2 separate regions of the Homo sapiens genome follow, and region 2 is linked to region 1. Evidence: fine-mapped expression QTL. Tissue or cell type: whole blood. Region 1 holds a variant in brackets; the other region holds the start of a gene. All regions are shown on one strand. Distances are between the middles of the regions.

Region 1 (8,220 bases):
AATCTGAAACTGCTTCCATGGGCTGTGTTCATGAATATGCCATGTCTGTCTATAAAAATATAGAGAGGATTTTTTTTGGTGTGTTTTTGGATGTTTTAATGGATTTTTCAAAGTAAATCTTAAGGTTTACCCTAAAATAGCTCATGCAACCATTTCCAGCTTAGATGTGGCCATTTGCTCTTTGACAATTACGAGAAACTGTTAGGCTGTAGCCTTGGAGCCTGGGCTGCCAATCGGGCCGAGTGAGGTGACTCACTAATAGGGGTCTACCTTCCCTGGGATGGCTGGCACAGAACCTCCAGACCAGGACAAGCCATGTCTTGCTTCTAGCTTCACTAAAAGTCGTGGATCAGTTTTCGCAGTGACCCACTCCAGTGTAATGTCAAAATGTTTTCCTAACAAATCTCAAAACCTTTTAGCTTTCAATTTTCTTTTCCTTTCAACTTCTTTGGGGCCACTTTTCTATTGCAGAAGAGTTGGGATTAATTAGAAAATACTCTTCTGTCTTCTATTTTTACTATGGAAGGAGAAAAGAGGGATTCTTGGTAACATAGGTAGCACAGGTAAATGTGGGCTTACCCAAAAAAAGAAAATAGTTGACAGACAGCTGCTTTTGCTGCAGGCTTAAATGCTTACAAGAAAGGGAAGTGAATTAGAACATGTGAATAGGTCATTTTGAAAAGTCGCTTTGTGTGTGGGAAGAGACAGGTTGATGGAGAGGCCCACAAGTGTCTGACAAGGCAGACAGCTGAGTCCCAGTTTAGTCCCCTGTGTACATATGCATCTGTGTGTCTTTGGGCACAACACTTACCTCTCTCACATCTCTATTTTTTCCATCTGTAAAATGAGGCATCATTGTGGCACTTACCACATAAGGTCGTTGAGAAGATTATATTAGATGATGCATATAGCACATATCTACATAAAATGTATCCAACAAAGGATATATCTTTCTGCTGTTATTCATTCACACTTTCTTTCTGTATGAACTTATTTTGGGTACATACTGTACCTTTTGCAAGCTTCCTTGGCAATTTACAGAAATGTAGGTGGTCTTACTTCACTTCCTGCTGAAATGAGAGAGCAATCGGTACTTTAACCATCTAGGGATAAGATATAGAGATGTTATGCAATCTCTACTTGGCTTTGAAAACAGAAGGCACTTAGGATCTGCTTGTCACCTAACTTGGAGCCAAATAAAATGCTAAGTGTAGGAAATATGTCAGTTCTCACAAGGGCAGGCCTCCTATCACATCCCTTCTCCATCAGACTGCTTCTGGGAGCTGAGAGGGCCTCCTAGGTGGGGTCCCCCTGTTTTTTTCTTAGTTTGGGTTTAAGTGGAGGCATTGGTAACCAACAGCCATGAGTCAGGTACCTCAGTCTTCCTCCAATGGTGTTTCTCATCATGCCCAGGCTGATTTGACACTAAAAAAGGACCAGGACCTCCTCACTATGTCACCTCCCTTTTAAAAAAAAATTCACAGTACCTTTGTCACAGTGTTCAGGTTGAGGGTGATAGCTCAGGTTCAAAACCTGACCACAGTATTTCCTGTGGTTTCTATTGCATTTCATTACACTGTGCTAGAAAAGTGCAAGGGAAAGTGCTGCTATCATTACCTTGCGGAAAAGCAAGTATTTCTGCAAGTTTATGGTAACACAGAAACAATCAATGCCAGATGCAAGCCGGGGATGGTGCATACCTATAGTCCCAGCTGCCTGCAAACTGAGGTGGCAGGATTACTTGAGCCTAGGAGTTAGAGACCAGCCTAAGCAACATAGCAAGAACCTGTCTCTAGAAAATAAAAAAACAGAAAACATCAGACGCAAATTCATCAAAGATTTGGTATGAGAACTTGTTCTTTCTCCAAAGTGATTGTGGTAATTATTTTTTATAATAATAGTTTTCATAGTTCAAAACTCTATATGACCAAGTGAATTGACTTCACTGATAAAAGATAAAACTTCTCATGGCTGTGACTTAGATATTCTAAAAACATACAACCACAGAGCCAGAAGGGCCCTTAGCGGCATCTGTTGCTGGTTGCTGCCTGCAGGAGGCTGTCTGAAGTAGAGGTTGGTGGTCCCAACTGCTATCCCTTAAGCTCTGAGATTCTGGATAAGTTTCATACCCTATCTGAGCTCTGCTCCTCTTCATAGTCTTGCAAGGTTGTTGTAGAAAGATTAAATGAGGTAACCACGCATGCAAAACAGTTAACACAGTTTAATTAACAATTAGCCAATGAACACACAATTAGTGCTGTTATTGAACAGTTGCTCAACATTTGGTAATAACCATTATCATCATCATTATCATCTTATTTCTACAACTTTACAGGGCTGAGGGTGTCATGCCCTTAGTTCTCTATTCTGGTCAGTCTCTGGGGTCAGATTTCCTGCTGTGTAACTGAACTCTCTTATCTTTCCCGCAATAGAGGAAGCCCATTTCTTCGTATCCAACTCTTGCTCTGTCCTGAATCTGACATAGTATTATTTAAGTCTCCTCACCTTTCAGGGCCTCTATTCCCTTTTCTTTGAAATTACCTGCTGGTAATTTCTTTGAAATTAGGAGGAGTGTTGGCGACCTGAAGGGCCTTGCAACTTTGCCACTATGTATAGTAACATCCTTCTGGTAACTGAAGGCATTGCCAGGCCAGGCTTCCATCTTGGGCCATTCCTCTGTAGCCATGGGTAGGACTCCCCACAATGGTGCTGAGAAAATGGTGATGAATGGATGTTTGTTGTGGTTGTTTTCCCCACAGGTCTCAGATCTCCTCTCATCATTCTGAGTGTTCTGCTGAGGATCTCTTCTCGTTACACCTAACTTATACAATAGGGAAGAACAAAAGTCAGAGTGTTGCTCTTGTCCTTGTCTTCGACCTTGGCCAATCCATTCAAATAACAGATCAAGGTGCGGGCCAACTTATAGCTAGGTTCTGCCATGAACCTAAGCTAATTTGAAAAAGTGCCAACAAAATGAATAATACTCATAGCTACAATACATTAAAAGCACTATGCTGTATTTGACATGCATTTACTTGTTTAATTCTTGTAACTGTCCAAGGTACACCCACCCCCATTATACAGATGAGAAAACTAAGAGAAATTAAGTAATATGCCAATGGTCAAGCCAATGCTAAGGGCAAAGATGGGTTTTGACCCCAGGAGCTCGATCCAAGAGTCTCTGTTCTTGACCACCTATGAGGCACTTCTAGACAGATTTCTCACCATTTTTTTAAAGTACTCATCCAGGAAAGATGCTCAGAGGCAAGAAGATGGGCTAGATGAACTCCTGAGGAGTGTTTCACTCCATCATGCTGCCAAGCCAATGCCATAGCCCCATCATCGCATGGCTCCATAATGAAGGATCACAGAGTGTGGGGCTTAAACAACAGAAAAATGTTGTCTCACACTCCTGGAAGCTAAAATTCAGAAATCAAGGTGTTGGCAGGTTGGTTCCTTTGAGGGCTGTGAGGGAAGGATCTGTTCCAGGCCTCTGTCCTTGGCTTGCAGATGGCTATCTTCTCATGCGTCTCTTCATGTTATCTTCCCCCTATGTGTCTGTGTCCAAATTTTCCTTTTTATAAGGGCATATGTCATATTGGATTAGGGTCCACACTAATGACCTCATTTTAACTTGATTACCTCTGTAAAGAGGCTGTCTCCAAATAAGGTCACATTCTGAGGTAGTAGGGGTTAGGACTCCAACATATATTTTTTGCTGGGGTGATATATTTCAACCCATAACAGCTCCCCTGTCATTTCAAGGTAATAATGAGTGTGATGACTCCATTTCCTCACAGCAGGGAAGTGGTTTACTTAACAGCGAACTGTCAAAGAGGTTTAGGTTTTAGAATCAGACAGGGCAACTTTGTTAATGCCTCATTTGCTACTTTTTGCAAATAGTCAAGTAAGTGGATCTCTGGTACTCATTTAAAAAACAGAACAGGTTTAAGAAATAAATAAAGGGAAAGTTTCAATCAATGTCTTACTTTTAGAAGCCTTGACTGCTGGTATCATGGAACTGACTCTTAGT[A/G]AATCAAACACTCTTCAGGAATTAGATCAGCAAAGGGAAGGTCATATTTTCTAAATAGTTGCCTGAAATAATTAATTAACTTTACTTAGAGGAGTAACTTACCTTCAGAATGATTTATTAATGGATTGGTGATTCCACTTATAAATGCTATTGTTGATAAATGGCATTACACTCATAAGAATTGCTTACAGTCAATACAATTATCTTTTTTCTTATTTTATCCAGGGTAAATATAATTGCTGCAATAAATTAGAGAGGAAACAAGAGCATAGGGAATATTAACTTCAAGATGTATTTAATGAAGGAATAACAGCATCGATATTGAATGACTTCATGTTGTGAAGTTGTCACAACCAAAATGGAGTCACTTGTGTTAAAAAAAAAAAAAAACCCTCACAAATAGAGCTATGAAGGCTGTGAAGAGAGAGTTCTCATGTTTGCATGCCTGATTTTAAAAAAGTCTAACATAAAAGACTGCAACAACCACAACCTTGCACAAAGGCCATCACAACCTTACACAAAAAATACTTCTGCAAAGACATCTTCCCAGGAACTGTCTGCCCAACCTCAGACTGGCAGACCTTGTTATTGATCACCCTTGTTATTGATCTTTGTAGCCAAAGGTAATCATTTCAAAATAATTATGTATCCTTCTCATTTTTTCCTTTAAAACTCCTTGTCTTTTTTTTTTTTTTTTTACCTCCCTGAATGCACACATAGTTTACTATGGCACCTGCATTCCCGTTGCAATGCCCTACTCCCAAATAAACATCATTTTCTTTTAGAGAGCCTGTCTGTATTTGTTACTTCGTTGACAATATGTTGGTTAAGTCAGGCACTGAAGAAGTAAAACTGATGGAATCATAGCCATCTATTGCCTAAGGAGGGCCAGATTTGAAAATGATGACTGTGAACATTATTTTTAGGATTCCTAGTCTTTTGTTCATTAAAATTTGAACGTTTTAGAGCAAGGTAGAGAAAATGTGGAGTCTAGCTATGCTACCGTTTGTGTAAAAAGTATGTGAAAAGGTTATCTATACATTGTCTATATATATGCATCTCAGCAATGACACAGGAGAAAGTCCTAGCTAGGGACCAGAGGCCTGGGAAGAGGAAGACTAAGATTTCACTGTATATTCTTTCCTAGTTTTGTTGTTCAATTTATACTGGATCCATTAATAACACCTGTTTTAAGAAGTGAGCACATGTTTCTGACAACTGCACCCCCACACAATTAAACTAGCTATGGATGCCCAGGTTGCAGGTTGCCCCAAGAATCCTTCCAGCCTCCTTTTCGCTGTGCTAATCCTCGGGGCTGCTTCTGGGCAAGATCTGAAATTTAGCTTTAGTTGATCTTGATGTGTATTCCCTCTCCTTTCAGCAGCTGCCTCCTTTCTCCTCATCAGAAGCTAAGGCGCTTCTTTCAAGTCTTGAAGAAATGAAATTCCAGGCCTCATGAAAACTGAAGCAAGAGATATTTGGCTTGTTACATCCCACGGTTTTAGTGATTAGAAAGGTTAGGTCTCTTTATGCTGGTATGTACCATATTTGAAGAAAGACCCTGTCCAGCCATAGAATCCTCAAATGTCATCCAAGTCAGCAAATGCAACCCCATATTGCTTGACTCCCTTCTCCGGCATCCCCATTCCAAGGGTGGTCCTTCCTGTGCTTGCCTGCCAATGGCAGCTGCCCTTTGATCCAACTCCTAGTGGTACAAAAATCCCCTCTATGGTGCTGAACTTGAACTCTGTGTAACTTCCACCCATGACTCTGGCTCTGCCACTCTGTGCCCTCTGATATGAGTTTAATTCCTGTTCTCAGGGAGGCCCCTTTAAGTGGGCCGTACTGTCTTCCCTCAGTCTCTTCCAAGCAAACAAGCCCAGCGCCTTCTGCTAACCTGGACTTCAGATAATCTGCTCTCCTGCCGCCCACTCCAAAGTGTCTGTTGCTCTATAAGTGTAGAGTTCCCAACAGTGAAGGCAAGTTTTACCAGAGCCCTGAGCAGCTGGGAGGAGACATAACCATTACCAACCTTACTCTATATGTTGTAAATTTAAAATTTAGGATGAGATCAGAGCATGATTTCCTTTTTTTCCTTTTGGAGGTAAGCGGGGAGTAGTTAAGTCACACTGTCATATTACATCATTGATTCATTTGGAACTGATTTTTGCATAAAATACCTCAATTATTTTCACAGTGTGGCTTTGAATCCCATGTTTGCTTTTTTGGAAGCAAAACAGAGCCTTGCACCTTTCCCTGTACCATTTCATCCTGTTAGTCCATGGTTAGAACTCATAGCAGCATTTTAGACCCAGATTCTGTCTTCTCATGTATTTCCCTGGTGAGTTAACAAAACCTGCCTTTGTTTTCATCTAAGTCAGTGATAAAAATGCTCCTTGCAGGGACAGGACTCAGATCAGATTCCATTCCACCTTGGAGGTGAAAGAATGGCCAATTGGGAGGGGGTCCAAAGAACATTTGGGCGCTTGGAGGGTTTTCTGACCAGAACACTTTTGTTTATTTCATTCAGAATGAGCATTGACATTTGTAAAGCATGAAGGTAACTGCATGTATTTCTGTTCACGAAAAAAAGTCTAATTTCTTAAAAGGGTGTTTGCAGCAGGGGTTGGAGCGAGTGGAAGGAACGTGGAAAGAGCCTGCACACACTGTCCATCATTTCTCTCAAGGTCTGAAGGCATGGGGAAAGTGCTTGGGGATGACTGGCCAGGAGGCTTGACTTCTGCTTTCAGCACCCAGAGCTTTAGAGTTTCTCATTTACAGTGGCTCCAGAGTTCAGAAAGAACTTTAATGAAGAATTTTGGCTTTTAAAATCCATTGTCTAATTATGCTTTTCTTGTATATTTATTTTTGGGAATGAGCATTTTATCAAGTGGGCATTTAGGAATCTTAGATTACTAGAGATGAAAGAATCTTGAATTTTAGAATCCTCATTTGTAAAATGGGACAATAAATGCACCTGTTGTGCAAAAGTTGTAAAGACTTCATGAGAAAGTGCATAGATAGTGTTCTGGGTAGATTCTGGCTCATTTTAAAGGCTCAGTGAATGTGAACCATTATCATCATGATGGCAGCAGAAACAATAGCCATTTCTCCCCTCATCCACACTGAGAAATTTTGGGTGAAAAATTATAAAGAATGTTCTAGTAACTAAAGCTAATCAACAGGGTAAATTGGAAGATGGTGACCGTCCATTCTTTAGTGGTATTGGAGCAGAAACTTGTCATCTTGGGAATGTTCTTAGTGGAAGTGTCTCTGTGAGACAGATTATGAGCTATATGACCTCTTCCAGCCAAATGAGAAAGTCCAGCCACTTACTGTTTTTTTTTTTTTTTTTTTTTGAGATTGCAGTGTGGTAGTGCCAGGAGGCCCTGACCTCATTCCAGCTAAGGTCCCCTCATTTCTCTCATTAGTGTTCCCAGGACTGGCCCTAGCCACAAGGACCAGCATAGTTTGTCCCACTATTTGTTGAAAAAAATACAGTCATCTGGAAACATAGTATGTGTGGGACCCCAGACTTCTGTTCTTTTTCTTTTGTCTCATCTTAAAAGCTGGAAGATGTGTAGTGTTGATCTTGGGTCAGAACAGTTGATCTAAGGCCTTTATTGAAATTAGCAAAAAGTGATTGCAAATAAATTCCTGAAACAACTAACAACAACAAATGGACAAAATCCATAACAACAAAAGAAGAAAGAAGATTGAAAAAGAGAAAAAAAGAAAGAAAATCCAGAAATCTAGTTAGAAAACTTTAAGGATCTAGGGAATGATGTTTAAGTGCCTTTATTATGTCATCATGAGTGAGAAAATTTTGAAAATAGAATACAGGAAAACTAAAAGGGGTATATCTTTGTATATTGCTCAAAATTATGCATCACTCTTATGCATAATTGGTTATTGGCCAGGTAAGACTAATGCTAGATTAATTTAATAACAGTCTTGTTTTTTGTTGAACCAGAATCAAAGTTTAGGGAAATACTGTCTAAGACTCAAATTCTTTTTTTAGGCACCCGTCACCACGCCTGGCTAATTTTTGTACTTTTAATAAAGACAGAGTTTTGCCATGTTGGCCAGGCTGGTCTCAAACTCCTGACCTCAGGTGATCCACCCACCTTGGCTTCCCAAAGTGCTGGGATTACAGGCATGAGCCACCGCGCCTGGCCTCAAATCCT
Region 2 (8,220 bases), 35 kb after region 1:
TAGGCATTGATTCCTCTAACTGAGTAATTTTGATATTTTGGGCCAGGTAATTATTTGTTGTGGGGTCAGTCCTGTGCATTTAGCATGTTTAGTGGCATCTCTGGCCTCTACTCTCTAGTCAGCAGTAGCACCCCTCCCCAAGTTGTGAAAACCAAAAATGTCTCCAGATAATGCCAAATGTCCCCTGGAGGACAAAATATCCCCCAGTTTAGAACCACTGTTCTAGAACTTCCTAGTGTTGGGAGTCCAGAATATCATAGCACTAGAACTACTTTTCTGGAAACTTAGTCATTGGTTCCTTGGTAGTATCACATTGATGAGTTTCTTTTTTTAATGGCCTCATGGAAAAGTTGGGTTACTTATAAAAATTACTCATATCCTGCTGCTGCAAGCATTAATTTCCCTCTATATAAATATTTTAAAATGTCTTTTTGTCATCAGGAGGATAAGAGGCTGATATGGTTTGGCTCTGTGTCCTCACCCAAATCTCTTCATCCAATCACCTCCCATCTGTTCCCTCCCTCAAGGTTTACCCCATGCTGTTGACCCCCAGCTCCTCTGGGGGTACCCTTTGGTGGGTGGCCAACTGACCCTACAGAATTCAAAATATCCTCCTAGCAAATCTATGATTCTCAAGTTCCTGGTTGACCAAGTCAGGGAGGAATGATAATAACTGCTATGGTTCATTGAGTGCCTAACATGTTGTAGGCCGTTTCCTAGGATCTATAAATATTTATCTTATTTACACCTTACGACAAAATTATCTTCACTGTATAGAGGAGGAAACACATTCAGAAGCTCTGTTTAATTGGCTCCAGCTACAGTTGTAGTGGCAATTCCGGGACTGATACCCAGACCATTCTGTTCTACCACTGCAGTCTGTATTCCCACTCAACTCTGGGCTCTGCATATACTTCTCTACATTACCAGTTCCTTGTATGATACTTGGCATTATGTTGATGTTTAGTAAATGTTGTACAGCAAAGAAGGAAAAAAGGAAGGAAAGAAGGAAGTCTCCACTGTAGCTCCAGAGTTCTAGTGATAATTGGATTAATCTTTGAGACCTCTGAATCGCTGGGGCAAAAGGATGATAGCAATTATAATAATACATAATATTCACACTTCCAATTTTGATAACATTACAAAGTTTTGGGAAGTGTTTATGTAATATTTATCTCATGTAATTGTCAAGATATTTCTGGTGTAGAGTAGAGGTCATAACTATGGTCACTTGCCAGAGAGTGACCAGAACTAAAACTCTCTGAACTCTAAACTGTGTGAAAGAGAAGGAAGAACTGCAAAGAGATGAACACATTATCAGTCGACAGCAGGCACAAGAACACTTTATCAAACTTTCTCTACCATATCACAAAGATTCAAAAGAAACCAAGAAAGGAGAACTAGTTTTGTCTTTCATACACCATGCACAATGCTTTATAGTAACTGCCTGTCAGCAGCCAAAGGAAAATATTGCAACTCGAGCGCTCTCCTTGATCACTTCTGCTTTTCTTTTTCTTCCTGAGTTTGTTTTCCTAGTAAAAAAGTTAAAATAGGATTATTTAATTTCACTTCTCTTATTCACCTTCCTCTGTTTCTTAAAAATAAATGACACAGTTTAAAAAAAAGAACAGAAAATATCTCAATATTATTGTGAGGTATACTTTTTATAAGCAATGTAGAGTTCTTTCTAGATAGTTCCTCCCAGACCAGTTGATTTTATTTCCACATAACTTCATGAAGTGTTTCCTTTTAGAAAGCGATACCAAAGCTAGTCAACCACACTGTCAGGAGTTTGTAGAATCTTTATTTACTTCCAATGTGTTGCAATTGTGGCCCAAGTTGAATCAACAACTATGTTGTTTACCAAAATACATCAAATAGAAAACATTGAGCAATGATTTTCTAAAGTATTCTCTTTTTGGAGTTCTCTTGCATGGCTTTCTGAATACTGAAAGCCACTGAACATGTATGCCTCTTGTATATTTGAATATTGTAAACCCGGTTGACTTAACACAACATTCCTTTTTCATTTTTTCCTTTTCATTGAAGTAAAAAAAAACTGGTTTTTGTTTTGTTTTGTTTAAAAAAAAAAAAAAAACCCAGGTGGCTTTTAGAGATTTCTTCCACACTTAAAAAAAAATGAACACTGGAACCTATTGACATAAACTAAAAAATTATGTTTCTGTGAGAAATGTGTTCAAATGGTCCACCCAGAAATCTGAAAAAAAAATTTTTTAATGGCACCAAGGGACCCTACATTAAATGTGCTTGCATTAAGCAACGAATGCTTTTTTGAGAGTCTGACTGAAATAACAATTATAATAATTATTATGCTGCTGATGATATAGTTGAGTTGGTATTTATCGTCGTGGGAGGGTAAGTTCCCTTACTCAATGGATGAAGAAGCTCCTCCTCTGGTTAGTTACATTTGCCCTTGATTCCTGCTTCCCTGAGGGCAGGAGGTAATCCTTGGCAGCCAGACTGTGCTTTGGGTACTGGGACAGCGAGGCATGGAGTTCGTGTGTACTTCCACTACAGATTCACTCAGACAGCCTCCTCAGGATGTAGCTTCCCTCCCTCCTAGCAGAGGTGTACCAACTGCCTCAAATAGGGAAGATCTGCTGGATTTACATTTTGCATTTTTAGTTCTAAGGATAAAAGCATCTCTGATTTTCTTTTGCCTTCCTTCAAAACGTTTAAATTATAATTCACCATCACATCCCTAACTATTCATTAATTATCCCAAGTCCCTCCTAGGTTTATTATTTTGACAATGTTTCCTGACAGTATTAGCAGGTTACAAATTATTGTTAAAGCTATGATTACTTTATTTATGGTCACTGCATAACAATTGCTATCTGGGAAAGATTATATGTTGTGTACAGTTATCATTTGTAGTCACAAGGCTTTAAGGAAAGCTTAGAACATAGAACATATGTATAGGTTCCAAAAGTGTGTTTAAAACTTCAGTATATTTCAGCCACAGTGATCTTTGAGCAGAAGAAAAGGTCTGAGTTTTTTGTTGTTGTTGTTTTTTTTTTTTGAGACGGAGTCTCGCTCTGTCGCCCAGGCTGGAGTGCAGTGGCGTGATCTCAGCTCACTGCAAGCTCCACCTCCCGGGTTCACACCATTCTCCTGCCTCAGCCTCCCAAGTAGCTGGGACTACAGGCGCACGCTGCCACGCCTAGCTAATTTTTTGTATTTTTAGTAGAGACCAGGTTTCACCGTGTTAGCCAGGATGGTCTCGATCTCCTGACCTTGTGATCCGCCGGCCTCGGCCTCCCAAAGTGCTGGGATTACAGGCATGAGCCACCGCGCCCGGCCAGGTATGCGTTTTTAAACACTGTCCCTTAAGACAGTGACATTTGTTATAAGAGTTTTAACACCAGTTCCCATTTCCTACTCTTGAAATATATGAGTTAATGATTTTTTTGTGTGTACTTAAACATTGAAATTTGTTCTAAAATCTGAGCACCCTCTTTGAATATTAAAAATAGAATAGAAAGGTGGTATAACATTTAACTTTGATTTGATGCAGCGTGTAGCCAAGGAGATTTTTAGAGCAGTTAATATATGCCGAGGGATACTAGGATAAATAGTACAGAAGCACAATCTGTGCCCTTGGTCTAACAGTGTAGTGGGACATTTCAGAGCCATTTGTACAACTCTAACTTGATTGTTGATTTTAAAATGTATTTATTGAAGCACACCTCCTAAACATCAAGTCATTGCGAAAGGAGCCATATCATCATTTGAAAAACCAAACCACCGGATCATAAAATGGGGAGTAAATATCTAAAGCAGGCTTATTGCTGCCACCCCTGGATCCAGGGATCAAATATGAATTGTTGGGAATTTCCCTGCTTTTTTATGACCTACAAGGCATTTTTTCCCCTCAGTTTAGTGAATATGTGTGTGTATTCATGTAAACTTACATCTGATAATATTGATAAAGCGGACAGACAAACAGATCAGACCTGCAGTTGACAGAGAATCTGCTGCTTCAGTAAGAAACTCATCTAAGAATCCTGTGCTTTTTGGAGACTTCCCCCTCCAGTTTCCAATTAATCATAAGATTCACAGATAGTGTCAAGAAGGCACAGAGAAAATAAAATATGAATTGAATTGGGACACTAGGGTGCTAAAGGACATTCAAAGAGAGTCCTGGAGGAGTTCAAGGCAAGATCCCAGGTCACACCGAGGTCATTTCTATGGTGAGATGGACCCAGCTCCCATCACTGGGTTCTAATGTGTTACATTAAAAGAAGTAGCAACATTGACCACAGCTTGAAAGACCACCGATTCATTCTGCAAGAGTGAGGAAAATCAAAGAAAGTTTAGATTGACTTGATAAATAAAAGAATAAATGACAAAACTGTCATCAGTTACCTTATTAAAGATGAAGTGGGACACAGAAACTGTTGGTGGACTTGCTCAGCTGATGGCAGCTTTCCTGCTGTGCACGGGGAAGGAAGAGTTGTGCCACCCTGGCCAGGCTGATCCTCTTGAGGTCGAGGTGCCTGGGTTTCCGTAGAGCTCTGAGTACTACATGTGTGAGGAATCCTCAGGTTCTCTCCTTGCTCTGTGAGTCACTCCCATTGTGACACAACGTGATGACTAAATATCTCTTGAATAGCTCATAAAAGCCAAGAAGCTGTAGGTCGCATGTTTCAAAAGGAATCAGCAGTATAAATTTAGCTACTTTTAGAAGAGACTTTAAAATGATCAATAACATTCATTTTATGATTAGTACAATCTCTTGACCAAATTCAGCAGCAGAAATAATATAACAAAGAAATAAATATTTTGTAAACTGCCTGGTGCGTGGTTTTAATAGTTTTCAAATTGTGATTATTCTTCATAATCTCCATTTTTTCCTTCCTGTTAGCATGCCTTGGCTTATTTAACACTCCTTCCCTCCTAAGAGAATAAGTAGGAGAAATCAGTCTCTGAGATTGGTGTTACCATTTTTTTTAAGATGGGCGAGCAAGGAGATAAAAACAACATAATAAAATGAGGTTTTGGAATTACTTATGGGTCTTAATTTATGTTTTAAGGTATGACAAGGAGAGCTTACTAAAGTGGTCTCTGGAACTGAGACCGCTGAGAATAGGAAAGGATGCCTCCTCCCCTCCCAGAGTTTGTCTGTGTCAGAGTTGATCACAGTTGACCTGGCGTATCCTGGGACCACAGTGGAAAGTACTGAGGCCGCAGGCGAGGAGGGGAGGAGATGGTGCTAATCTAGCCTGCCACCCTTCACCTTCACCACTGTAGCCACTCAGGCAGGTACAAATACCACTTTGCTGATTTTTCATTTTCAGTTTCCTCGTATACCAGTTTGTTGCTATACTCTTCTGATTTCCCAGACTCTGTATTCCTCCTTTGAAAATTGCAGTTATTATGGTTCAACTGGAATGAGCACATGAATGAACATATCTGTCTAGGTAGAGTCAGGACACTGCTATCACCCTTTAAAATAAGTAGTGGTCTTTTTTCTTTAAAAGAACAACAAACCCACTTTGGGAGGCCAAAGCGGGCGGATCACTTGAGGTCAGAAGTTTGAGACTAGCCTGGCCAACATCGTGAAACCCCATCTCTACTAAAAATACAAAAAATTAGCCAGGCATGGTGGTGGGCACCTGTAATCCCAGCAACTTGGTAAGCTAAGACAGAATCTCTTGAATCTGGGAGGCCAAGTTGCGTGTGAGCCAAGATCGCGCCATTGCCCTCCAGCCTGGGTAACAGCGTGAGACTCCGTCTCAAAACAAACAAAAACAAACAAACAAACAAACTGAAATTTACTCAGGTTCACATTTAGGGTGCCCCAAATGTGCTAAATATGCTTTTTCCTCTTTAGCATTTCATAAGTATGGCTTAAATATAAAACCTCATAGACAATACATTGACTTAGAGCCACATGAAGTAAGGTATAAATAATTAATACTGAACCCTTCCTGTGAGCCTGTTATTGTCACTAAGAGGAGAAGAGAGCCTCATGCACCTGGGTGGTCATGCAGTGTTAACTGAAAAGGGCAAAGAAAAAGTTATAACAATAGTTAAAATTTTGCTACTTAATGAACTCGCCTAGTGCAGCCGTGTTTCAAAAACTTTCCAAATAGACTTAAAAAAAGTCAAATGTTTAGACTGATTTGCATATTGGAAATTAGAATTCTTGCCATCTATCTGGCTTGTCCCTCAATTCCTGTGGGCCCAACTCATGGGTTCAGTTTCAGTATATGGCACCACAGCCAGAACACCCCCTCTCCTTGTCCAATGGTCCCACATAGGCGATCAGTTAATGAAGTCATGTTAGCAGTGTCTTATCCAGACTGTAACCATATACACATTCAAATTCATATCTCAAGTGCCAAGTTGTCTTTCATTTCACCTCTTTAATATACAACCTTTGAAAGTGCTACTTTGTTCAGAACTCATCCTACATTGACTTCAGATCAAAGATCACATTAAAAAAAAAATCTGGAACCAAATTGCCATTTGAGTTTTTTCCTAGTTCCTTTTTAAAACAAAGGAGTGCACTGTGCATTTTATTTTAATGTTTGTAGGTGGAATGTAAGTATACAGTGGTAAGGCTAGATGCCACCACAGACAACACACTAAAGATAGAGTTATCCTTTTTCTTCTGAATCTGTATGCCTCCCATACTTCTACCCAAGAGTATCTTCTCCACCCCTTTCCAAATACCAAAACATAAGGAGGAAACTCAGATCTGAGGCTGTCTCAGGAGACATACGTTAGGCTTCCTGCAACTACACCATTCTGGGGATGGTCTAAGTCACAGATCATTCTAAGATGAGCTTCAACTGGAGGAAAGCACTTACTCCAGTGTGCAGGCTGTGGTGGGTCCAACTTCTGGAGTATATCCAGTGTCACTCTTGTAAGGCTGACCAGGAGGGTGAGGCTGGTGATAGAGCATGCACAGTGGCTTCTTCCTTCTGGCATAATGATGTAATCCTCTCTCTCAAGTCATTCTCAGTGGAACATGTTTCTCTGAACGACTATAAGCTGCTATGAAGACTTCATGTTTTAAAAGTGTACTTTATATTTTCTTCCTCCTCCCTTTGTCAACAGGGAGTTCTCTTATTTCTACTGTAAAGGGAACCTGTACTTTGGTTCCCTTTTTATACAAACAATGCCTTTGACATTTGAGTAGCTTCTTTGGCTAGGCTTGGTCAAAACCAGGAGCTTTGTTACCCATTTGGCCTTTCATGACTCTCCCAGCTGTAAGATGAAGCAGGGCTAATCTTTTGTTTTTCTCTACTATGCAATCTTTAGATATACAAATAGAGATGGAGTCATGGGAACATTTGATAGATTCTTTGAATAAAGATTTTTCTTATTTACAGAGCACATATCCTTTTAGCTTACCCAACAAGAGGTCCTGCGTTGAAAAGTGAAGTGAGAAGTATTATATGGGGAATTATTGTTCTGGTAGATGGAGCAAGAGAGAAGATAGGTGAGAATGAAAGTAACAAATGAACAGAAACACTGTGGATTTTCAGCAACTTGAAAGAAGGAAAGGTGAAGGCTAAGAAAATGTGTCTGTCACAGAGGGAGGGAGGTGGGTGCTCCTTCTGGTATGACCATCACATGTTCACATGTGAGCATTAAAAATTTTTTTCCTGGCTTAAGAATGATCTTCCTGCCAAGTTTCCTAGTTTCTTTCAATCCCTTTCAAAAAGAAGGCAACTTCTTTTTCCCAGAATCTTAACTGAGATGATAAAATATCAAATGAAATTAAGAGCAGATGCTAGATGCAGCTGATTGTGTAATATGCAAGTACTATCCAGTGGGAAAGAACTCACGGGGATTCATGAAGTGGGGAGGAGTGAGTTAGAGACAACTGTCTTCAGATCCTGTTTGGCTTGTTCTGGACTTTGTTTTGGGTTGTTCTGGACTTCAGACCCTGTTTTGGGTTGTTCTGGGCTTTGGTTCTGTGTGAGGCCTATTTGGCTAAAAAGATCCAAAGATGAATAGAAAGGGGCCTTTCTATTGAGGAATAATTCACTGTTAGCTCATTTATTGCTGAGTAAGGAATCTCATAGACTTTCCCCTCTCCTTGGAGAACCCCTGATTCTTGCTGGCTCCTTGAGACTATTTAAGATTGTGGGGGAAAGGGCGATCTTATCCTTTGCTGATGGATATGTGAATTGCTACAGCCTTTTTTGAAAGCTGTCCAGAAAAAAAATCTGTTAAAATAAA

The links. PIP is the estimated chance that this variant, and not a neighbour inherited with it, causes the effect.
Region 2: DHRS9 starts here. The variant in region 1 is fine-mapped to the expression of DHRS9 in whole blood (INTERVAL, PIP above 0.99).

Annotation. Positions count from the first base shown.
Region 1 is chr2:169,101,201-169,109,420 of GRCh38, reverse strand. No RefSeq gene overlaps it. Among named protein-coding and RNA genes, the nearest start is that of DHRS9, 36 kb to the right of the region's middle. The variant A/G (reference allele first, on the strand shown) is at 4,034.
Region 2 is chr2:169,065,887-169,074,106 of GRCh38, reverse strand. DHRS9 (dehydrogenase/reductase 9) reads right to left here and starts at 4,544. Exons shown (of 5, transcript NM_001376924.1): 1 at 4,390-4,544.